Linked DNA regions of Homo sapiens: regions 1 and 2 are each linked to region 3. The links come from fine-mapping of genetic effects on gene expression. A gene starts in region 3. Each other region holds a variant in brackets. All regions are shown on one strand. Distances are between the middles of the regions. Region 1 has its middle 36 kb from the start of ANKRD44-DT. Region 2 overlaps SF3B1 (splicing factor 3b subunit 1). Region 3 holds the start of SF3B1 (splicing factor 3b subunit 1).

Region 1 (8,183 bases), 87 kb before region 3:
CTCCCACCTCAGTCTCCTGAGTAGTTAGGACCACAGACGTGTGCCACCATCCCTGCCTAAATTTTTTTTTCCTGTTTCTCCATGTTGCCCAGGCTAGTCTTGAACTCCTGGACTCAAGTGATCCTCCCACCTTGGCCTCCCAAAGTGCTGGGATTACAGGCGTGAGCCACCACACCCAGTCAGGTTGTACTATTTTGTACACACACACACACACACACACAATTGTGAATTTTTTTAATAAGTAAATTTACAAAATTTTTAAGATGAAGATAAAGGTGTCGGAGGTTGGCTGAGGGTAGTTCCTGTGAAAAGTGAAGAGGAGAGAGAGCAGGATGAGGCAGGAAAAAGCCTTCAGATTGTAATATCTGTCTGACAACTGTGAAAGAAGAGTGGGAGGGAAGGAGGCTTGGGTAGGAAGAGTTCCAGACTGCAGTGCAGCTCTGAGGACATTTCACTTCATCAAACAGGGGCTCCACACACAGATTTCTCACAGAGGAGTCCTGTGTTAGGCAAAGATGGCCAGGACCTAGTACCCTTGCCACGCTCAGTTGTTGAGCAGGAGTTGCCTGGGAAGAGAGTGGTCTCCATTCCCATATGCCATGGCAGACCCTGAAGGTTTTGCATCTACAGGCAGTCAGTGCATTGCACTCCTCACAGCTGAAATGTGAGCTCCTTCTCAAAGTGAGATCTGAGCAGGGCCTGCATGTCTGCCACAGCAGCCACGTGAGATTTCCATTTTTAAAAGCCAGTTCCTGGCAGAGCACAGTGGCTCACGCCGGTAATCCTAGCACTTTGGGAGGCCAAGGTGGGTGGATCACTTGAGGTCAGGAGTTTGAGACCAGCCTGGCCAACATGGTAAAACCCCGTCTGTACTAAAAATACAAAAATTAGCTAGGTGTGATGCCACATGCCTGGCGTTCCAGTTACTCAGGAGGCTGAGGCAGGAGAATCACTTGAGCCCAGGAGGTGGAGGTTGCAGTGAGCCAAAAGCATACCACTGCACTCCAGCCTGGGTGAAGGGAGTGAAACCCTGCCTCAAAAAAAAAAAAAAGCCAGTTTCTTTAAAAAAATGTTGCTTGTAATCAACATATAGAGGCAAAAGAGTGGAAATTAGGTCTGTGTTATTTTCTGCTAAATTAAAGGCAAGCATCCACACTGAGGAAAACATTTGAAATAAACATGATAGGCAAATTAACAAGTTTTTAGCTAGGGAGGATTTTATATATATTGGTTTTGTTAAAAAAAAAATGGAAGGCCCAATATAGGTAAAAGATATTATTAGAAAATTCTCCAAAAAGAAAATACAAAACAAGTAGAATTGGAACAGCCTCAACCTCATCAGTAATTAAAAATAAGTAATGTTAAATAATTTTTTTCTGAAGAAATTAATAAAGGTTTAAAAAATGTTTGATACTTAGTACTTGTAAGGGTATGATGAAATAAGTTATTCTTATACATTTCTGGAGTTGGTGTAAATTGGCGATAATTTTGGACCTATTATTTTTCCGTAGAAGAATATATTCTAGGCACGGTGGCTCCAGTCTGTAAATCCCAGCACTTTGGGAGGCCAAAGGAGGGTCACTTGAGCCCAGGGGTTCCCGATCAGCTTGGGCAACATGGTGAGACTCCATCTCTACAAAAAATAAATTTAAAAAATTAGCCAGGCGCGGTGGTGCATACCTGTAGTCCCAACTACTCAGGAGGCTGAGGTCAGAGGATCGCTTGAGCCCAGGAGGTTGAGGCTTCAGCGAGCCATCATCACACCACTGTACTCCAGCCTGGGTAACAAAAAGTAGAAAAAAGCTTGGGACACAAAGATGTTATTTTAGTCAGGATTCTTGATTATGAGAAACCCAACTCAAGTGGCTTAAGCTAAAAAGGGTAAATTACATGTCACATAAGCAAACCATGGAAAGTCGGGTTTAGAACAGGCCTTGGGTTAGACTGGATGCAGAAACTCCACAGAATTAACTCATTTCCTCTCTCTCTCTCTCACACACACAAATGCACACACGCTCACACACACATTAATTTCCTCACTCTCTGAGGTGTATTGACCTTGTTCTCTCAGGACCAGAAGAAAACAAAAACAAAAGCAATGGCACCTTAACTATTAGGTACTGAAAGATTGTCATTCCAGACAATAATCCAAGTGTTTAAAAGGAGCTCATGGCCGGGCACAATGGCTCATGTCTGTAATCCCAGCACTTTGGGAGGCTGAGGTGGAAGGATCACTTGAGCTCAGGAGTTTGAGACCAGCCTGGGCAACATGGTGAAATCCCATCTCTACAAAAAATTCAAAAAATTAGCCAGGCATGGTGGTGCATGCCTGTAGTCCCAACTACTTGGGAGGCTGAGGTGGGAGGATCACCTGAGCCCAGGGGTTGAGGGTTCAGTGAGCCATCATCACACCACTGCACATCAGCCTGGGTGACAGAGTGAGATCCTGTCTCAAAAAAAAAAAAGAGCTTGCATATAGTCTCTCATATGGTGGAGAATAAGGCAAAGAAGGCAGCCATTAACTGTGAGGCCGTGCGCTTATAGCTTGTGATCCAAAGGGAATGAGACTGCTCTACTCAGCCTGAGTCACACGCACCTCACTGGCTTGTCATCATGGCCAGCTTTTCCTTGTTTGGTCTGGGTTAAATCTGTCCCCTCCTTTCAGTAACCGCTGCCTCCCAGTCTGATTTCAGATCCTCACACTGTGTACTCTCACCTGGACTGTCTATACTGGCTCCTAACAGGTCTCACAATTTCCAGAACAACCCCCACCCCCAGCCCCACATGCTATACATAGCCCCATTCATCCATCCTGCACACTGAGACCAGGGACATTCTTTTGCATCAAGTTTTTGCCGACTCCCCATTGCTTTCAGGATGAGGCCAGTATTCTTTGTCTCAGCCTACATAGCAGCACAGTCTCATTCAGATTCTCCTCCCACTATGCTCTCCTTCACATCTACAGTCCCAGCAGACACGCTGCCATCTCCCAAGCCGTCTGCGTTTTTGCACACATCATGTTTTACATGCCACTGCTGGGGCAGCCAGTTCTGGGCAGCCTGCAACCGGCTCTGAGCAAATACAACCCGAGGCCACCTTGTCCCTGTTCCACACCAGGGGCCTCCAGCCTCGTGCTCTGTGGCTTCTCTGACACCCAGAGGGTGGGATGTCCGTGAGAACCTGCTCCACTCTTAGGCAGGCACAAGTCAAAAGCCCAGGACTATTAAAGCCTACTAGACCACCCTTGACCGATAGAAGATTAGAGCTGATGGATAAATGCATTCCCCTTTTGTCCCCTGAGAGGATAGTTTTGAGACGTATTTCATAAAGCTCCTCAGAAGTCCCCCAGGACTGAACACCAGTCACCCATACCAGTGCTGGTCTCAGTGGCGAA[G/A]TCCATGTATTAGCAGCTTCTTTCCTTCTCTGCCTGACTTCCCCTGGGATTGCATTCCCAAATCATCTACCTGTTCTCAAATCTTTGCCTCAGGATCTGGTCTGGGGAGAACCCAGGCTAAGAAACTGAGATATATTCAAGCCAAAGGCTCCCCCAAAGGTCATAAACTAACCACATCGTTAAAGAAGATCCTAAGGCTGAAGAAAGAAGAAAGACCATTCAGTGAGGAAGCAACTGCCTTACTCCAATATTTATCTCTCGCTCAGATATAACTGGAGACCCAAGTAGCCAAATCTCAGAGCAGGTTTGCAGTCAAAGAAACAGGCCAGCAACCCAACTCAAACCTATTAAAATCATTGCTATCATCTTTCTTGAAAAGCATCAAGGCCAGGAAAGTGTATTTTTAACTCAAAACAAAACAATATTATAAAAATACCCTCTTTAACCTCCACCACTTCAAATATCCTCCATATGGAAAAGAACTTGCTCCCAAATCCACATTTTCTCTCCTTGACCTTCAGCTCTCAAATATAAAATTCTTTAGAAAGAAACAAACCCCTCATAGCTCTAGACTTTCCTCTCCTTTCATTTCCCCCTTTCTTCTCTCTTGTGAGTAAATCTTGGCCTTTTTTCATGAAAATACTCCAACTCATCTCTTCTTCTATGTTCTATCTATTGTCTACCATTGTTCCAAATCTGTATCAGGAAAGCCCAGAAAGCAACCTAGCAAAGGCAGAATCCACCTCAGCTCTTAGGAGAAAAGGAAAAGTGGGAGTTGCTAGACTCAGAATTCTCTTAGGGGCGGAGGGGAAGTGCAGTGGCTCACGCCTGTAATCCCAGCATTTTGGGAGGCTGAAACAGGAGGATCACTTGAGCCCAGGAGTTCGAGACTAGGCAACATAGTGAGACTCCCATCTCTATTTAAAAAAATTAAAAATTAACCAGGCATGGTGGCACACACCTGTGGTCCCAGCTACTCGGGAGGCTGAAGTGGAGGAGGACTGCCTGAGTCCAGTTGAGGCTGCAGTAAGCCATGATTGCACCACTGCACACTCCAGCCTAGGCGACAGAGCGAGACTCTGTCTCAAAAGAGAGAGAGAGAGAGAGAGAGAGAGAGAGAGAAAATTCTCTTTAGAGGGTAAAAGAGAGCTATGAACATTCAACTTTAATCCTTTTGTTCTCAGTCACCCAATACACTCAGTAGCACCCTAGGAAGCACTGGGTCAGTCAAGCACAGAGGCAAGTGTATCTAAGGTTTCCTCATTTCTCTACAAGGAAAAGGATAAAAGATGAGTGATGTGAACTGACTTTAAAGACTGAAGTTAACCCAGCAATTCCCATAGTCCATGTGCAATATAACTACCTATACTTTTGGAGTATGTGTTATACAATATTTTTTATATTTGTTAAATCTTTTAACATAACTTTGTGCCTGAAGAACTGACTGGTGGTTCAGATATTCCCAAGAATGCTGGGAGTGGCATTATGTTATGGAGCAATATTCCATGACACTAAATGGTGGGTGGGGGGAAATTATTAGAGGTTTACCTGGATCACAGTGCTGCCAGCACTGGAAATCAAATTATTATCACATGTGGCCGGGCACAATGGCTCATGCCTATAATCCCAACAGTTTGGGAGGTTGAGGTGGGCATATCACTTGAGGTCAGGAGTTCGAGACCAGCCTGCCCAACATAGTGAAACCCCGTCTCTACTAAAAATACAAAAATTAGCCGGGCATGGTGACACATACCTGTAGTCACAGCTACTCAGGAGGCTGAGGCAGGAGAATTGCTTGAACCTGGGAGGCAGAGGTTGCAGTGAGCCAAGATTGTGCAGTGGCCTAGATGACAGAGCGAGACACCATCTTTAAAAAAAAAATCATAATCACGTTATTTGGTGAGACTGAATTCAGGGCCACGGGAGCTGAAGGCATAATGGAGCTGTGACCACCTGACACTTCCAACTCCTCAGCAGGCTTCACCTGCCACTTGAGTTGGGTGGGGGTGTTGCCAGGCCAGGGTGCATGCTGTGCAGGAGAGAGCTTCCAGGGTCTGTTTCTCCTACGGTTTGAATGTGGTTTGTTGTCCTCACCAAAGCTGATGCTGAAATTGGACCCCTACTGTGGCAGTGTTGGCAGGCGAGGCCTGGTGGAAGTGTTTGGGTCATGGGGATGGATCCTTCATAGACAGCTTGGTGCTGTTCTCATGGTAGTAAGTTCTCACTCTCTGGAGAGTAGATTAGTTATTGCAGTAATGAATTAGTTCCCTTGAGAGCAAGGGTTACAATGCAAGTTTCCTCCTTCTGTTTGGCTCTCTGCACATGTCCACTTCCCCTTTGACCTTCTCTGCCACGTTGTGCAGCACAAAAGCCTTTGCCAGAAGCCAGGGCCATGCTCTTGAGCTTCCCAGCCTACCTAACTATGTGCTAAATAAAACTCTTAAAAAAAAAATTACCCAGTCTCAGGTATTCTTTTATGGCAACACAAAATGGACTAAGACAGTCTTTCTCTCCCTTTTCCAAGACTGAGCAAATCTCCTTCTACCTGGCTCTTTTTTTGGCTAGATTAATATCGTTGGTCAAGGTAGGCCCTATCATGGGATGGAAGTAGACAGTAGAGAAATGGCTTGGGCATCTGAAATGGACTGGGTGTTTGTGGTTCCCCAAAATTCACCTGTTGAAATCCTAACAACCAATTTGAGTGTATTAGGAGGTGTGGCCTCTGGTAGGAGAATAAGCCATGAGGATAGAGCCCTGGTGAATGAGATTAGTGCCCTTGTAAAAGATACCCTAGACAACTCTCTCACCCTCTTTCTACCAGGTGAGGAGACAACCAGAAGTCTGCAGTCTGCAACCCAGAAGAGAAGACCTTCATCCGAACCCAACCATACTGGCAATCTGATCTTAGACTTCCAGCATCCAAAACTGTGAGAAATAAATTTATATTGTTTATAGCCACCCAGTTTAGGGTACTTTGTTACCAAAGTCCAAACTGACTAAGACAACATCTCTTTCACAAAGGGCCTCTGTTATAGCAGGCTACCCAGAGAGCCAAGAGATACAATAATGCAATTGAAGAATGACATGCATCGTACACATTTATGCTTGAACTCCAATAACAGTCCACATTGCCTGGGTGCACTATGAAAGACTAATTTCACAAATCCCATAATTATCTTGTAACACAATTATATTGTAGTATGTGTTATATATTAGTGTTAATTACCTCAATGTAAACATTTAGAATAGCACAATTTTAAAAGTCTGTTTTGTGGGCCAGGCGCAGTGGCTCACGCCTGTAATCCCAGCACTTTGGAAGGCCGAGGTGGGCAGATCACAAGGTCAGGAGATCAAGACCATCCTGGTTAACACAGTGAAACCCCATCTGTACAAAAAACACAGAAAGTTATCTGGGCATGGTGGCGGGCACCTGTAGTCCCAGCTACTCGGGAGGCTGAGGGAGGAGAATGGCGTGAAACCGGGAGGCGGAGCTTGCAGTGAGCTGAGATTGTGCCACTGGGCGACAGAGTAAGATTCCATCTCAAAAAAAAAAAAAAAAAAAGTCTGTTTTGCATGTCTTCTTTTCCTTCAATAAGTAGGAATAACTGAGGCCTCTCAAATTCTGAGCAGTCCTGGATCAAGTAGCTCTTGTTTGAACATTATCTCTCTAAAAATGGGAATTTGCAGGTCTTTACCCTGTTCAGTTATGTGTTAGCTAATTAGCAAGTGAGAGAAAATTAAACAACTGTTAGCTGAGTGCCTACTCTTTGTAAGGCACTCGGCAAAGGTGAAAAAATAATGGACATAGTTCCTGCCCTCAACGAGTTTACATTCCAGAGTAGGAGATGGAAACTAATCATTGAATCACATAACTAATCTAAAATTACAATCATAGAGGTGCCAAGACAAAAAAATAAAATAAAACTACAATCATTATGAGTCATAATAGGGGAATTTGACCTTTCTTACTGGGAATCAGGAAGGGTATTCATGAAGTTAAACAGATATCTGAGAGGAAAACAAGTAGAATAGAAGGGAGTGGCAGAGGCCGGGAGCAGTGGCTCATGCCTGTAATCCCAGCACTTTGGGAGGCCAAGGCAGGTGGATCACTTGAGATCAGGAGGTCAAGACCAGCCAACATGGTGAAACCCCACCTCTACTAAAAAAATACAAAATTTAGCCGAGCATGTTGACTCATGCCTGTAATCCTAGCTACTTGAGAGTCTGAGGCAGGAGAATCACTTGAACCCTGGAGGCTGAGGTTGCAGTGAGCCGAGATTGTGCCACTGCACTGCAGCCTGGGCAAGAGAGTGAGACACCGAGACTCCATCTCAAGAAAAAAAAAAAGAAAGGAAAAGAAAGTGGCAGAGACACAAAGGGGGTCACAGGCAGAGGGAAGAGCATGTCCAAAATCCCTGTAGTGTGAGGGAGCTGCACAGATTTGAGACATTGAAAGATGTCTGAGCCTCTGGAGCACAGAAAGCCAGAGAGAACAGGATCGAGATGAGTCCAGTTGGGAAATATGACTTTGAGTCTCCAGGTTTTGAGTGCTGGTGGTTGAGGGAATGGGGAATCACCTTGCTGTTGCCCACACACACCACCTTCAAATCCTACCCAGAGTACCACTGCCCCCAATATCCACATCTGAAATCATCTTTCAGAGCCTAACTTGAGCCTGGGCTTGCCAGAAATAACTCTATTAATCACTTACTGCCCTTGATGCAGGACTTTGTGCTTCAGATTTTGAACAGCAATGAAACAGAGAGAGAACAAATCCAGAATGGGGTGA
Region 2 (8,156 bases), 35 kb before region 3:
CTCTAACTATATTTGACCAATTTTGAAAACAAAAGATTATCAATCAACCCTTTTCAAAATTTATTTAATTCAATAGATAAGAAAAGAGATTTAAAGGGGATGGGAGAACTTGAAAGAAAGTCTGGGGAATCACTACAGCGTGCACATTATTTTAAAATAATAAGTCATATTTACAATGTCCTAAGACTCCAGGCTAGCAATTTTTTCTTTAACTATGTTACAGTAAAAAGTCATCTAATAACTATTTCACGATGTTCTAAAATGAAGGAAGAGTTATAATTATTTTCTTGTATTTAGTTCAAGTCACTTACCTATCCATTAAAGCATCTTCAAGTAACGGTGTTACGGCATAAATGTAGTCTTTTCCCATTTCACCAATATATTCAAACAAGAAGGAAAGCGATTTTAACACTCCATTTTGAACATTCAGTTCAGGAACTCTGTATTCATTCATTAAGGCAGGGAGTACTGTAAAGGGTGAACATGTTTCTGCAACAATAGCTATTGCTACAGTGGTACAAACTCTGTTCTGCCTTTCTTGAACTTTGAGGTTGTTCAGAAGTGTAGCCAATACATCATGAGGGCTGAAAAAAACAAATGGGTCAACAAGCTGTTACATTATAAGTCAAAAATTTATGGAAGAAAAAAATGCATAAAGATGAAAACTTTTAAGTATTAATAATTACAGGGAACTCAGTAATTTTATAAAATGCAATACTTTCAAGTCACTGGCATTGTTGTTTCTATATAAAAATTTCATATAAATTAAAAGGTCAGTTTAAAAAAGTTGACTCTGAGAAGATCAGAGGTCATAGCTGTACAAATTCTAAACATTTTAAGTTAACTCAATTTTCAAATGTAATTTTCAGTTCTTAAACTTTCTGAAATATAAAGAAATTTAACTAAATGTTTAAAGTGAGTAATTCTCTGAGTTGTCAAAATGGGCACTAGAACTAGGTAGGAGTGGTGAGGGGAATATCCGAATTGTAGTCTCCCATTATAAACCATATAAAATCTCTTTTCCTTTTATCTTTCCTCCACACAATTTGCTGCATCTATTTGCCTCTTCTTTGACATAAACTTAGAGGGACATTGGGGCTAAAAGCTTGCACAAAAGCTATTCTTGCAAATGTCTTGACTCCATCACCACTGAAATAAATATTATGCTACCAAAATAGGAGAGGAATGAGTATGTGTTAGGGGAGGGGGTGTTGTCTGGTATAATTCTACCTAATTAATCAGACATTCACATGTCATATTCCTTGAAAACATTTTCTTAAGCCACATGGACATGTGGTGTCTCGTTTTCTACAATGACTGTTTTTTCCTATTTTAGTTGTGATGGAGTGGAAGCAAACCACCACAGATTATCTCACAAAGCAGCTATAATTCAGTTAAATCCGTGGAGTAATGTTAGAATAGCATTTTTGTTGTTTTTTTTAGAGACAGGGTCTCGCCCTGTCGCCCAGGTGCCCAGATGCCCAGGTTGGAGTGCAGTGGCACAATCACAGCTCACTGTAACCTTGAACTCCTGGGCTCAAACAATCCATAATAAGATTTTTAAAACATATAAAGCATTAATATGAGACTTAAATGATGTTGTGAGACTAAAAACTTGCCTTAATAGTTTAAGCAATATCCTAGAAGACCAGCACACATTTTAAATTTTTCTGAAAATGGTACTGTTTCCCTCCCTGAAAACACCTAAAGTGTAATTAAAGTAAGTCTTAAACCCTTCCATCTATTTTAATTAAGAATTTAAGACTACAGGCTGTGCGCAGTGGCTCACGCCTGTAATCTCAGCACTTTTGGAGGCCAAGATAGGTGGCTCACTTGAGGCCAGGAGTTCGAGAACAGCCTGGCCCACATGGTGAAACCTCATCTCTACTAAAAAATACAAAAATTACCTAGGCGTGATGGTGCATGCCTGTAGTCCCAGCTACTGGGGAGGCTGAGGCAGGAGAATCGCCTGCACCTGGGAGGCGGTGGTTGCAGTGAGCCGAGATTGAATCACTGCATTCCAGCCAGGGTGACAGAGCGAGACTCCGTCTCAAAAAAAAAAAAAAAGAATTTAACAATACATTCCAATAATCAGAAGGTCAGTGGTTAAATGAAGAGCTTTCTCAACTGCATTATTCAGACCATGCCTCAAAAGAGATTTCTACATGGAAGTATTTTCCAATACCACAATGCATTTATTATAAAGTAATTTTTTTTTAATGGAAGTAAATAACACTCACCCAATGGCCTTTGCAATATAACCAAATGTGTTGACTGTGGCTCTACGAATAGCCTTTTTGTGGGCTTTTAAGAGCTCTAAAAGCTCAAAGCAAATCCTCATCCACTCTCTTGCAGATACATATTCAGCTCCCCTAATTTAAAAAATACACATATTAATTATTGTGACATTAAGAAAAGTTTTAAGGATAAATTTGCAAATTCAGTTCTAAAAACATGATTAACTCATTTTAAGCATTAAATAAAACTTACTACTCTTCAGAAAGGCTGAAGAGTTAGTCTTACAGGTTTAGTCCTAAAATTACATTGCCACCCCCATTACCATCCAAATTGAAATTTGACTGAAAATATTAATACTGGATAGCCTAATCTTTTACACTTATATTAGTGACATTAAGGAAATTTTGCTAATTGAATACAAAGTGGCCAAATTTGAAAATTGATACTGCTTATAAAAATGTGTGGGTAATCTGCTTACCTGTCAGCAATACGACCAACAAGATCAATACAATTCTCTTGTACTTTTTCATGTCTGTTCTTTAAGATGGGGGTGAGTCTAGGCAGCAGATCTTTAATTGGTGGAGTCATCTTATGCATACCTATTTAATAGAAGTCAATAAACTATCAACATTTGAATTGCAACTTTTGTTCACTTTCCTTTTACTTAGCAATGTCATATATGACTATGTATAAATATAAACTTACAGCTGCCTAGGGAAAGAGAAAGCCCCAGATTCTGACCAGACTCAGAATCGTTTTTAACTTTTATTAACAATTTTTGATTATGTATAGAAATGAAAGAAATCAGTGAAGTGATTTAAAGGATGATGGATACTCAATAACAAAAAAGTTTTGTTTGATTCTGAAATATATTTGTGCACTGACATTTAAATATGGGGACAGCTTATGTTCCGGCCATACACAACAATATAAGCCAGAGGTAAACATGTAAATAAAGCAAAAATTTCCAGAAAGGGCCCCCTTACCCTTTAACTGCAAAACAAACAGATCTCCAGTCTCCCTGCAATGCAGGGCATACTTGGATGGTATTTACACCTACGAAGAGAGAAAAAAGGAGGCAGCTGGCAGGGGCTCTTGCTCTAACTAGAATCACTTGCTCTGATTCTCTCTCCATTGCTCTTCCCATGCCTCTCTGACAAACAATATGGTTTAAAACTCCCTGCAAACCAGAGCCCTACAAGTGGCCATGTAAATGATTTCTGGCAAGTAGCTATCTTCAAGTATAGAGGATAGGGTTGCATTGGAGATTATATGCAAATACAATAGTTTAAACATGTGTATCGCATAAATACCTCTTACAAAATGAGGAAAAACAAACAGTGGCTCTCTCACAGTCAGCTATTTTGACTTCTGCTAGGTTATCAGAGCCTCTAAACTCTGCAGGAGTTACATTTGGCAACAGTTATAATCAATTTAAAAAAAAGATTAAATATAAGAAACCATTTGTTTTCTTCATACTGCCCTAATGGAATAAAAACTTTGCTCTCCATATCCAAGACCATTTGTAATATAGCTGTATTACGGGTTAGAAAACTGAATGGACAGTATTTAAAACTTGGGTATGTAAATAAAGACAATAATTTGATCAGTTCACTTTTCTCTGATTATATTCCTTGAAACTGATCACAAGCAAAAAACCTGTCATAATCGCTAATTCAAGGTTTAAATATATATATATTGTTCTAAAACTAAATTAAAACTTTAGGATTGCCTTTTCACCCCGCAGCAGAACATGGCAGAATATATTTCACCTGACACACTATTTCTACTAGGGTCCTGTATTCCATGACTTCAAAGCTTTTTGAGCTGTGACTACTCCCACCTCTCATGTAGGTCCTAAACTTACCCTTTTTTTCTCTTTAAAGTAAAATATAAATGGGTTTTGGGAAACAAGACTTTTGTGACATCCCCCGACTTAACTACAATCTTGAAGTGCTTTTAAAAAGCTAACAAAAACCTCCCAACTCCTAAATAAGATTTTACTTACGAAAAAAAAAAGAAAAAGAAAGTTAAAACAAGAAAAAGTCTTATGTAACCAGCAAATTCCATACCTATGACATTTACAATGGCCTTCAGTGCTCCAAGAATGCTGCCCAATACTTCAGGGTACTCTTCACCCAAATACTCATACAATACAACACCCAAGTGTCCCATCAATTTTTCCTATAATAAAACAAATAATGTTAAAATGTTACTATTTACATTAAACTATTTGGGGAAGAAGTAAGAATTTGATGCAAAAGTTTACCTCTTGACAAGTCTTCATGACAACAGCAGTTCGAGAAATCAAGTCAGCTGCCTGTTGCCTAACTTTAGCAGATTTGTTATTTAAACGCCACAAAACTGTACCACAGATCTGAGGCAAGTATGGTTTGACTCGTTTGCCAAGAGCATTAACCACTGTGCCAAAGCCGTTCAACATTACTGAGTCCTAAAAAATAAATTTAAAAAAAAGACATATTCATTTGGTTTATGACTGCACAGTTGAAATACACTAAGAGTCAACCTTTTCTAACCACCCAAACATCTGTTGCTGTTTTTTTACATCAAATCTTAAAACTTGAGGTAGAATAATATCGTTTGGTAACCCCCTGAGCATTTTAAAAATTACTTCAAATTCAA[T/C]TGCATTCTAGAAAAATTTGCTTGACAACTAATATGCTTTTCTACAAATATTAAAGTTAGTAGCAATGTGCCATAATAGTTTTCATTACCTCTGTAGTCTGTTCTTGGAAAGCATAAAGAATACCATCAATCAGTTGTTCTTCAAGTTTATGATCAATATCTGCTGCTCCCAAATTACCCATAATTTTCTCAATTGTCTCCATCACCATTTTTCTGTACTGTTCGGCTTCATCTTTCAGATCATCCACAATCCTGGATATAATTTCTGCTGCACCTACTTTGTTTGCCAACTCCACAGTAGTATCAACTAACTAAAAAGAACAGAAAAACAAAAAACCTTTTAGACTGCTTTTCCAAGGAAATAAAGCAACATCATGAAAACCAAATACTCTAAATATACTACTTATTTAGCTAATAAACATGGTAAGAATGATTCATTGCTACTTATTAAAGTTGAAGAGAAAAGTGACCAAACATCGAAAAATGAGTATAAGTTAACATGATTCAAGGTAAAACTGTGTCCATGTTTCATCTAGCCAGATAAAGCACTGAATGTACCAGACAAAAACATCAATTCACAGTTAAGTATTAATCCTCGAATCCAAAATCAAAATGGAAGTTAACTGGCTGACTAAAATCCATCTCCTTTCATAATCAAGCACATATAAACTGTGAGATAATCAAGGCAAAAAATAATATACAACATGCATTCAAGTTGACTAAAGAATGAGTTGAAAGGACTTTTGAGAATATTCTTTTACAATAAAAGCTTACCTGTCGGTAATTTCTTCTATCCAAAGCCATCCTGTGCTGCCAGAAGTGTTTAAAAAAGGGAGGAAGAATCTCTGTTTTAATGTAGTTTGCTTCTACACCATCTGTCCCACAACACTGTTTTACCACCTAAAAGGTTAAGAAATAGTAATAATAAATCAACTGACCTGAAATGAAGAGAATACTCATTGCTGATTACGTGATTTTAAAAAATAAAATTTAAAAACAAATCAAACAGTATTCGTGTAACATACAGTTTTTTTTGTTGATTTTTAAAAACACTTTAAAATTCTGTTAGAACCATGAAACATATCCAGTTTACATTAACAAATCTGGAATAATTACCTTCAGCACAATTTTTTTCATTTCCTCATCAGGAGACTGGAATTCTCGAATAAGGATTAACATCACTTCTCTAGTATAGTAGTTGGCATATTCTGCATCCATAAGAGGAATAAGATACCCAATAGCCTTCAAGAAAGCAGCCAAACCCTATTTTTAAATAAAAAATATATGTACTTTAGTAATTTAGATTTATGTCGCCTTAACTTTAATGAAGATAAATCAAAAGGTAATTGGTGGATTTACCTTTCCTCTGTGTTGGCGGATACCCTTCCATAAAGGCTTTAACACAGAATCAAAAGATTCGATACCATAAGGAGTTGCTGCTTCAGCCAAGGCAGCAATGGCCAAAGCACTGATGGTCCGAACTTTCTGCTGCTCATCCACAAGACCTACAAAACCAAACACAGGTTTTAACTATGCCCCAACATTACCTAAGTTACACAATATCATCCAGATTCTCTCAATATATCAACTATTCAGCCAAACTGCAGAATATGTTCACATTAAACAAAATTAGGTAAAAGCAAAACATGAACCATAGCCTGTCAGCAGATAATATAACAAACCCATCATAAAATCTATAGTTTGTAGAGCTATGCCTTTCCATTTATCTCCCCAAATCAGTAGCCCAAATTTTAGGACAGCTGTCCTATTAAACATGGACAGGCTGTGTGTGTACCTCTAGTCCCAACTACTAAGGAGGCTGAGCAGGAGGATCACTTGAGCCCAAAGGTTTGAGTCCAGTCTGGGCAACATAGTAAGACCCTGTCTCCTAAAGAAAAAAAAAAAAAGACAAAGTTACATTACAACTTACCATGTTCAATGATTTCAACTAAACTTCTAAGATGTGGCAAGATGGCACAGCCCATAAGAATAGCTATCTGTTGTACAATCTTAATACCAGTGTGTCTCGCTTGCCAGGACTTCTTGCTTTTGCACACAGCTTTTAAGAAGGGCAATAAAGAAGGAATGCCCAGGGCAGAGGCTACAACAGCAAAAGCTCTAGCTGTTGTGTTACGGACATACTCATCCATGTTATCTATATCAGGTCTCATGGTAGAGATCATAGTAGCCAGACCAGCAGCCTAAAATGTAAACAAAGAAAGGACAGTCATGAGTTGGTAATATTAATCTTCAACCATTTCTTTCCATAATCAATTCCATAAACAGATATAAATTTTCTTCTCTAGAAATTAAATGTAAATACCTTTGCCAAATTAGAAATGATCTCTCGGCCTTCCACTCTAGCATAGTAATCTTCATCAATCAATAGCGGTTCAATGACCACGAGGATCTGAAAAAGAGAAAAGAGAAGAAGCTACACTTTCACATCAATTACTGATGAAATGCTCATGTACAGAATTAAACATACATAAGAAATTTAGAATTATCAGGACTTTTGTTAATCAAGGGACGAACTGTTTAAGAATTTTAATTATACAAGTTCAAACTCCAGACAGAGATGAAAATTTAAGAGAGCTATTAGTGACACACTAATATTCAATATTTTTTAAAGAAATAACTTATACACCCTATGAACATACTGCACCATAATTACCATCGGTGAAAAAACTGGTTCTTAATACTAACTGGCGTTAGTTCTCATATGTTCTCATCCTAATCTAATTTTAATAAAAGCAAATGAAAAAATTAAATAATATGAACCTCTTACGGCAAAGATGACAAAAACTAACATCTGTACATCTGTATAAAACTGTATTTGTACATGTATGGTGTGTACTTGTGCAAAGGAAAAGGTCTAGGAGAATATGTAAATTTAACATTGATTAACTGAAAAAGTTAAAACTTTAAACTATCAGAAACACTATTAAGGAGAACAAACCTTATGCACATATGGACGAACTAAGTCATCAAGTTTGTACAGTATCCTATCAATAACTTTCACAAGTAAATGACGCTCTTGATCCTCAAGTGTAGGAGACATCAGCAGAGGAAGAATCTGATTAAACAAAGGACCAGCTCCAAATTCACGAGCTTTATCAGTAATCTGACGCAATGCAGCCTGGGAAAAAGAGCAGAGTAATAGGTGTGGTTTCTTTATAATCAAACATTTTGAATGAGCAAATTACTCAAAGAAGATTTTCCATACTTTAATATTTTAGTGTTTACTTTTACACACATTTTACATAGACAGCATG
Region 3 (8,183 bases):
AAGCTAGGTGATGAGTATATGAGGGGTTCATTTTACTACTCACGGTAGTTTTTTTTGTTATTTTGTTTTGAGACAAAGTCTCACTCTGTTGCCCAAACTGAAGTGCAGTGGCACGATCTCGGCTCACTGCAACCTCCACCTCCTGGTTCAAGAGATTCTCCTGCCTGAGGCTCCCAAGCAGGTGGGATTACAGGCACGCACCACCAAACCCAGCTAATTTTTTTATTTTTAGTAGAGATAGGGTTTCACCATGTTGATCAAGCTGGTCTCAAACTCCTGACCTCTGGTGATCCATCCACATCAGCCTCCCAAAGTGCTGGGATTACAGGCGTAAGCCACCGTGCCCAGCCTACCCTAGTGTTATTAAAACCTGTCTTCACACACTGTGCCCGGCCTGTTGTTTTGTTTTTCTGAGACAGAGTCCTGCTCTGTTGCCCAGGCTGGAGTATAGCGCCAGCCGCTCTCTACTTTTCTGTATGTTTGCAGTCTCAAGCAATCCTCCTGTCTTGACTTCCCAAAATGCTGGGATTACATGCGTGAGCAACCCCTGGCCTCCTGTATTTTAAAACTCAGACCTACATATCAAGCTCTTGAGAAAAACAATTCATATCACTGATAGCAGAAGGTCACATCTGATAAAACTATTTAACTGCTCCCCACCAATTCTGTCCCTCTGATTTCCCCTCCTGTGCCTTTTCTTCTTTTTTTTTTTTTTTTTTTTTTTTTTGAGACAGAGTTTCACTCAGTCGCCCAGGCTGGAGTGCAGTGGCGTGGCGTGATCTCAGCTCACTGCAACCTTCGCCTCCTGGGTTCAAGCGATTCTCCTGCAACAGCCTCCCGAGGAGCTGGGATCACAGGCTCACGCCACCATGCCCGGTTAATTTTTTTGTACTTTTAGTAGAGAGGGGGTTTCACCACGTTGGCCAGGCTGGTCTGGAACTCCTAACCTTGGGTGATCTGCCCACCTCAGCCTCCCAAAGTGCTGGGATTATAGGTGTGAGACACCATGCCCAGCCCTTTTCTTCTTTCTAAGCCTTAGATCCTGCTAAACCCAACTTGTAGCACTTCTTCCTCCTTGATTTTTATTTTTCATTTTTCGTCTGAATTATTTTCAGTGTTCTAATCACTGCTCATTACATGTTACACAGATACTGCCCTCAGATGTTAATGTCTCACCTACACCTTTCAGTCTGGTCCCTAAGTGATATCTACTCTCCTTCAGCCAGATATAACCGGTGAACAACTATTTCCAAAATACAAGGCTTCTAAAAGACATCACAGAAAAACAGGAAGTATATTCTGAATCCCAACCCTCAGCTTTTTCATTAAACAAAACTCCAATAGGACAACTAACTATAATATAAATCATTTTACTGAACACTACAAACAATACTGATAAATTGATTCCTAAATGATTAATTCTATTAAAAAAAATTTCAAGGCCAGGCATCGTGGCTCACACCTGTAATCCTAGCACGGTGGGAGGCCAAGGCAGGACTGCTTGAGCCCAGGAGTTCGAGATCAGCCTGGGTAACATAGCGAGACCCCATCTCTAAAAAAAAATTGTAAAAATTAGCCAGGCATGGTAGCACACGCCTGTAGTTGTAGCTACTCAGGAGGCTGAAATGGGAGGATCACTTGAGCCCAGCAGTTGTAGGTTAAGTGAGCTATGATCACGCCACTGCACTCCAACCTGGGCAACAGGGCAAGACCCGGTCTCAAAAATAAACACAGGAAAAAATATATAGATCAGCAAGATACACAATAACAAAACTATAACTATTCCAGCCATTTATCAAGCAAAGAATTAGGGAAAAAACTTTTTCAGCTTTGTGATGTCCCAAAAAATCTAATTCAAAGGATTAGTGGCAAAACAAGCTGATATGTAGGATTTTTGGTTAAACCATTTTCCCCTTACAAAACAGAGAATAATGTGTGTTCCCTGTTTGTATGCCAAAGTCAGCAGTATCTGAAGAACTGCTGGATGGCAAGATTATGCATATTCATAACCATACACCTGACATAATACGTGGAAAGATCTAAAAGATTTTATCTGATTTGAGTAATTCCAGTTCTTTTTATATTTCAATCCTGGAAAGCATAAGCCACATTGGCCAGGGTAAAATATAATCAGATTGGTTAAAGAGGATGTGAGGCCTGATCCTAATAGAAATGTTTGAAAGGGTTCAGGCATGGTGGCTCATGCCAGTAATCCCAGCACTTTGGGAGGCCAAGGTGGGAGGATCACTTGTGGTCAGGAGTTTGAGACCAGCCTGGCCAACATGGCGAAACCCTGTCTCTAAAAATACAAAAATTAGTCGGGTGTGGTGGCACATGCCTGCGATACTAGTACTCAGGAGGCTGAAGCAGGACAATCGCTTGAACCTAAAAGGCGGAGGTTGCTGTGAGCCGAGATTGCACCACTGCACTTCTGCCTGGGCAACAGAAAAAGACCCTATCTCAAAAAAAAATAAAAAATAAAAAAAGAAATGTTTGAAAGGAATATGACAGCAAAATAAATAAATAGTTATCAGTTTATCTCAATCTTGGAGCTAAGGAGAAGAGAAAATCTTAACACAACAGACTATTCTAAGCAATATAACATTTATACTGAGTACTATAGCAGCACTGCCCCAAAAAGCATTAATTCTGCTTCAGTTTATCAAAAATGGCTTAACAAGAGAAAACAGTGATGGACCATGAAGAACTAGAGTTCCATTAGGAAGGAAGCAACAAGCTATGTCAGTATTATGTGTATTTCTACTAAACATTTATCATCCCCTGACATATCCCATAGGGATGGGCACAGACAGTGCTCAAGTATTGAATGTTCTGCTATTTTCTTATGGTATCACTTAATTCACATTGATAGAATAATCTCAAAAATAACAAGTTTGGCCAATGAATAGCAATAGACCAAAGTTTTTAGCTGGGTTTCTAAAAAATTCAGGAAAACTGATCAGAATTCTGATTTTCCTGTCTGAGGGCATCTTATACTGAAGTTACCAATAAATAAGTATCAAAGCTATACTATCAATATCCCCAAATGAATAACATCCTGAATGAACAAAAACAGCACAACTTTATATTTTCTACTTACTTTGCAAAAGGTTATATTTGAGATAGTCTAAAGACAAAATAATAAAGCCTAGGAATACTAAGAGAGCATTTAAATCCTAAATACCTAAAATGGTATACTAATATTAAAGTCATTGACAATTCATTAGCATGTTTGATAAATAGCAGAAAGCTGGACTTCAGGTCCTCTGGGTGACCCAACTATTCAAAGCCATTCACATTCTGGTCCTAATCCAACCTTTCCAGATTCATTTATTTCTTCTCTACTTGCACCCTCTGTTCCTGCTACAGTGGACTACTACTCAAACACACCTTTCACGATTCAATACCTTGTTACAAGATGTTCTCAGGCTCAGATGTCCTTCCCGATTTAAAACTGACTGATCCTTTTAAAACACGGTCATGTAACCTCCTCAGTGAAACAACCCTAAACATAATCATTCCGTTACCCAGGTTCCCAGAACATGCTGCTTTTTCTTCTACTTAAGCATGCATCTGGCCTCATGAGAGAATGAGAACATACACATCTGTTTCTCCTATCAGACTGTAAAATTTTGGATGGCCTCAGTCTCTTACCTCTCACAGACTAATACCGAGCCAAATACCCAGAAAGAACATATGAAACAAAAGTGACTTAGAAGTCTCGTTCTCAGTGAAAATCTCGGATTCCAAGTCAGAAATCAAAGAATGCAGTTCCAACTTCTCATGCCTCGTCTTTTCTGAAAAGTGATCCCATTTTCTGTCATCTCTGGATACTTCCTAATGAACTCCAGTCTATTCCCAACGTTTTCCTAATTTGCACACTCTGTATTCCATAAAACGATCAACTAGCTTGAAAGCTTCGGCCATTAATGAAAGTAATTTATGTTTTCCTCTTCCATCTGCTCCTCCAATAACCAGTCTCCAAAGAAAAAGATCAATATTATACTAAAAGTGACTAAGGGAGGGAAAACAACTACCAGATTTTATCCCCAAATCGTTTCGTGCAAGAAAAATAAACAAGTAACTGACGCTTGAAGACACACAAGGGTAGGAGTAACGGAATCTCGGTTTAACCAAATTCGATTCAGTCTGCCGGAAAAGCGGCTGCCGTATTTCAGTGCTTTTCTGACCCTCTTCTGCACAAACTATGGGGACGACAGTGTCGAGAGGCGAGTGAGACCTTCTCCCCACGCCCGCTTCCCCGATCCCTTGCCCACGAATCCTACTGAGGAAGCCGCTTAAACGAGGCCCTCTGGTCAGAGAAGAGAAGCTACTCTGAAGTAGCAGGTCCCAAACACTGAACAAAGCGCCTGTCGGGGGTGTAAGAGGAGGACGCCATTACGCGGGGCAGTGGCCTGCGCCGCTGGCGCGGAGGAGACGACCCTTGGCCCCGAAACGCGGGCTCAGCTCCTACGAAAGAAACCATAGAAAAAGGCAGAATCCTAGGAAAAAAGGCTTTTATTAGGCTAGCAACGAAGAAAACACGTAAGCAGGGAAAGACCGCTTACCTTCGTGAGTCTTGGCGATCTTCGCCATTTTGTCCACTCGAACACACAGACGGAACTGGCGCTCCCAAGAACTTCCGCTCGTCGCCGCCGCCACGGAGAAAAATAGCTGGGGGCTGCACTCTGCGCGTGCGCCAAACGGGAGCGCGCTCCGTCGGGTGACACGTGACAGAACTGCCACCTAGAGGGAACCGCGAGGTGCATTGTGGGTGGGGGAGGAGACACGGTTGGGCCCTGAAGTCGCCTGCGTGGTGACCCAGGAAATCCCCGAGCCGAGCCGTAAGGTCCTTAAGTGAGTAACTTTGCCCTGGAGGAAAGTGGATTCTACGAAGGGAGTTAAGAACAGACACTGAGTCCCAGCAACTCTGGAGGCTGAGGCGGGAGCATCGCTTGAGCCCAGGAGTTCGAGGCAGCCGTGAGCCGTAATCGTGTCGCGCCACTGTACTCAAGCCTCCAGACCGGGCGACAGAGCAAGACCCCGAGACCCCTCCCATTAAAAAAAAATGAACACTGTACGAAACGCTGCGGTTTCAGAGCTGGAAGAGACCTCAGACATTCAATCCCTTTTCCCAAAATTCACTGGAAGAGCTCGAGGAAAACTTTCCCTTGCAGCTGTCTCAGTCTTTACAGTGCTTAGTTACGAAGACAGTCTTAACAGTCCCATCTTTCGCCCTGTAATTCAAGGTCATTTTTCATTCTTTCTGTTTAATAATTGCAAATAATTTGGGTAGGAATTTCGTTGAGCCTCACAAATCGTTGCTGAGTTGCACAGTGACAATCTTGCCACCCTTTTAAAGCCTTTTACTTTATGGGTTCCTAGAAAACCACTCATCGTCATTATTAACATTCATTAGATGTTTCTCTTAAATCCTAGACGGTATTCCTAAATCAGGAATTTTAATAGATCAGAATACGGCAGTCTGTTTTCCTGGGCATCAATTATAATATAACCTTGTACTGTCACACTGGTCTTTGACTTCGACGATGAAAAAGAAAGAAAGGCTCAGAAAGATGGGTCCCGGAAGCAGCCGAGGAAAACAGGTAGTTATCAAGGTTAGAGCCATCACAAAGAGAGGAGTACCTCGCTATGTGATAAACCTGCAACCCAAATACTAACCATACCATGGGTCAGTATGGTCGTTTGAAGGGAGGGAAATGGTATGGGTGTATTCCTCTTGCAGGAAGACCCCATATCTACTTTGGGTAAAGTGAGGAGCCATTTTCCTGAGGCTAGCGGTAGGTGGGAGATATATGGACAATGGCACTGGACTGAGAGCTTAGATAACCTGTCCCTGGTGACTCCTGACCTGCAGCCTTGCTCCCTCTTTCCCTCTCACCAGACTCCCTCCCTTCTTCAGATCAGGTGACACAAACGATTTTTTTTCTGTTTTTTTGACACACAGTCTTGGTTTGTTGCCCAAGCTGGAGGGCAGTGGTGCGATCACAGCTGACCCTAACTTCGACCTTAAGGTTCAAGAGACTCTCCTGCCTCAGTCTCCAGAGTAGCTAGTACCACCAACATGGGCCACCATACCCAGCTAATTTTTATTTTTTGTAGAATGAGATCTTACTATATTCCCCAGGCTGGTCTCAAACTCTTGGCCTCAAGCAGTCCTCCTGCCTCAGACTCCTAAAGTGCTGGGATTATAGGCGTGAGCCACCACAGATTTTTATTAGCATCAGTAAAGGAATAAATTTGATAAATTAAAATTTTTGGCCAGGCGTGGTGGCTCATGCCTGTAATCCCAGCACTTTGGGAGGCTGAGGCAGGCGGATCACAAGGTCAGGAGTTCAAAACTAGCCTGACCAACACAGTGAAACCCCATCTCTACTAAAAATACAAAAATTAGCCGGGCATGGTGGCACCTGCCTATAATCCCAGCTACTCAGGAGGCTGAGGCAAGAGAATCGCTTGAACCCAGGAGGCGGAGTTTGCAGTGAGCGGAGATAGTGCCACTGCACTCCAGCCTGGGCAACAGAGCGAGACTCCGTCTCAAAAAAAAAAAAGAAAAAAAGATGTGATGGTTAATTTTAAGTGTCAACTTGACTGGATTAAGGAATACCTAGAAACCTGGTAAAGCTATTTTGTGGTGTGTCTGTATGGGTGTTTCCAGAGATTAGCGTGTGAGTACAAGTGGGCTAGGTGGGGAAGATCGGCCCTCCGTGTGGCCAGGTACCATCCAGTCTGCTGGGGACCCCAGGAAGAACAGAAGCAGAGAAAAGGTGAAAATGTCAATTTATGTGCGAAGGCTGGCTACATCCAATCTTCCTCTATTGTTGTTTTTGGACAACGACCCCAAGCTGCTCAGCCTTTGGAATCCTGGATTTACACCAGCAGCACCCTATCCCCACCCCTTCCTCCTGGTTCTCAGGCCTTTGTCCTTGGACTGAGTTACATCATTGTCTTCGCTGATTCTAAACCTTGGGACTTGGACTGAGCTACCAGCATCTCAGGGCCTCTAGTTTGCAGATGGCCTGTCAAGGGACTTAGTCTCCAAAATTGCAGGAGCCAGTTTCCCTAATAAATCCCAATGTGATAGTTCTTATCCCACAGGCCCACTTTAGTTCAGTTTAGTTTTGCTTTGTTTTTAGAAATGGGGTCTTGCTCTGTTGCCCCAGCTGTAGTGCAGTGGCTCACTCCAGCCTCAAACTCCTGGGCTCTGGCGATCCTCCCAACTCAGCCTCCTGAGTAGCTAGGATTACAGGTGCACACCACCATGCCCAGCTACTTTTTAATTTTTTTTTTTTGAGACAGAGTCTTACTCTTTCACCCAAGCTGGAGTGCAGTGGCGTAATCTCAGCTCACTGTAACCTCTGCCTCCCTAGTAGCTGGGACCACAGATGTGTGCCACTACACCCAGCTAATTTTTTATTTTCAGTAGAGACAGGGCTTTGCCATGTTGGCCAAGCTGGTCTTGAACTCCTGGCCTCAAGTGACCCACCCACATCGACCTCCCAAAGTGCTGGGATTACAGGCGTGAGCCATCTCACCTGCCTACTTTTTAAATTTTTTGTAGAGACAGGGTCTTGCTATATTGCCCAGGCTAATCTCGAACACCTAGCCTCAAGCGATCTTCCCATCTGGGCCTCTCAAAGTGCTGGGATTACAGGCAGGAGCCCCTTAACCAACTTCGAGAACTTGGGAAATAAGATGTGGTGGGTTCTTGCCACCGTGAGCCAAACCTGGGTCAGAACTTCATGTGTGATCTGGCCCCTACATACACCCACTCTGATAGGATATTATGACACTTTGGATAACAATGTCGATTTGGACCTTGTGTCCCACAGGTCTTAAAATATTTGGTTATTCCACTTTTCCCAGTGTATAGTTACCAGAGCAAATGATAGTTCCCTTTGGAGAAGTATTAAGGGATCATTAACAAATACTAACAAAAAAAAGGAAAACAAAACAAACACTGTGGTGTTACACAGTCCTTCCTGGGGACCTAGCTTCTGCTTCAATTAGATGACCTGAACTCATTTCTAGATCTGAAAACTACCTTAGGTCTGGAAACTAGCTGAAGATCACTTTTTTTTTTAAATTGGGACAAGTGCCTTCAGCCTCCTAATGATTCATGTTTTATTTCTCTTGGTTGCACAGATTGAGCAGTACCCTTG

What was found. PIP is the estimated chance that this variant, and not a neighbour inherited with it, causes the effect.
Region 1: its variant is fine-mapped to the expression of SF3B1 in whole blood (INTERVAL, PIP 0.92).
Region 2: its variant is fine-mapped to the expression of SF3B1 in whole blood (TOPMed, PIP above 0.99).

The regions. Positions count from the first base shown.
Region 1 is chr2:197,343,461-197,351,643 of GRCh38, forward strand. No RefSeq gene overlaps it. Among named protein-coding and RNA genes, the nearest start is that of ANKRD44-DT, 36 kb to the left of the region's middle. The variant G/A (reference allele first, on the strand shown) is at 3,395.
Region 2 is chr2:197,395,745-197,403,900 of GRCh38, forward strand. It overlaps SF3B1 (splicing factor 3b subunit 1), which reads right to left. Exons shown (of 25, transcript NM_012433.4): 12 at 7,841-8,020; 13 at 7,205-7,291; 14 at 6,812-7,082; 15 at 6,241-6,386; 16 at 5,998-6,144; 17 at 5,656-5,781; 18 at 4,971-5,192; 19 at 4,508-4,690; 20 at 4,311-4,422; 21 at 2,717-2,837; 22 at 2,241-2,372; 23 at 312-584. Among named protein-coding and RNA genes, the nearest start is that of SF3B1, 35 kb to the right of the region's middle. The variant T/C (reference allele first, on the strand shown) is at 4,882.
Region 3 is chr2:197,430,404-197,438,586 of GRCh38, forward strand. It overlaps SF3B1 (splicing factor 3b subunit 1), which reads right to left and starts at 4,625. Exons shown (of 25, transcript NM_012433.4): 1 at 4,569-4,625. The coding sequence starts at 4,596. RefSeq lists enhancers at 3,962-4,508, 4,253-5,452, 4,694-5,003, 5,024-5,073.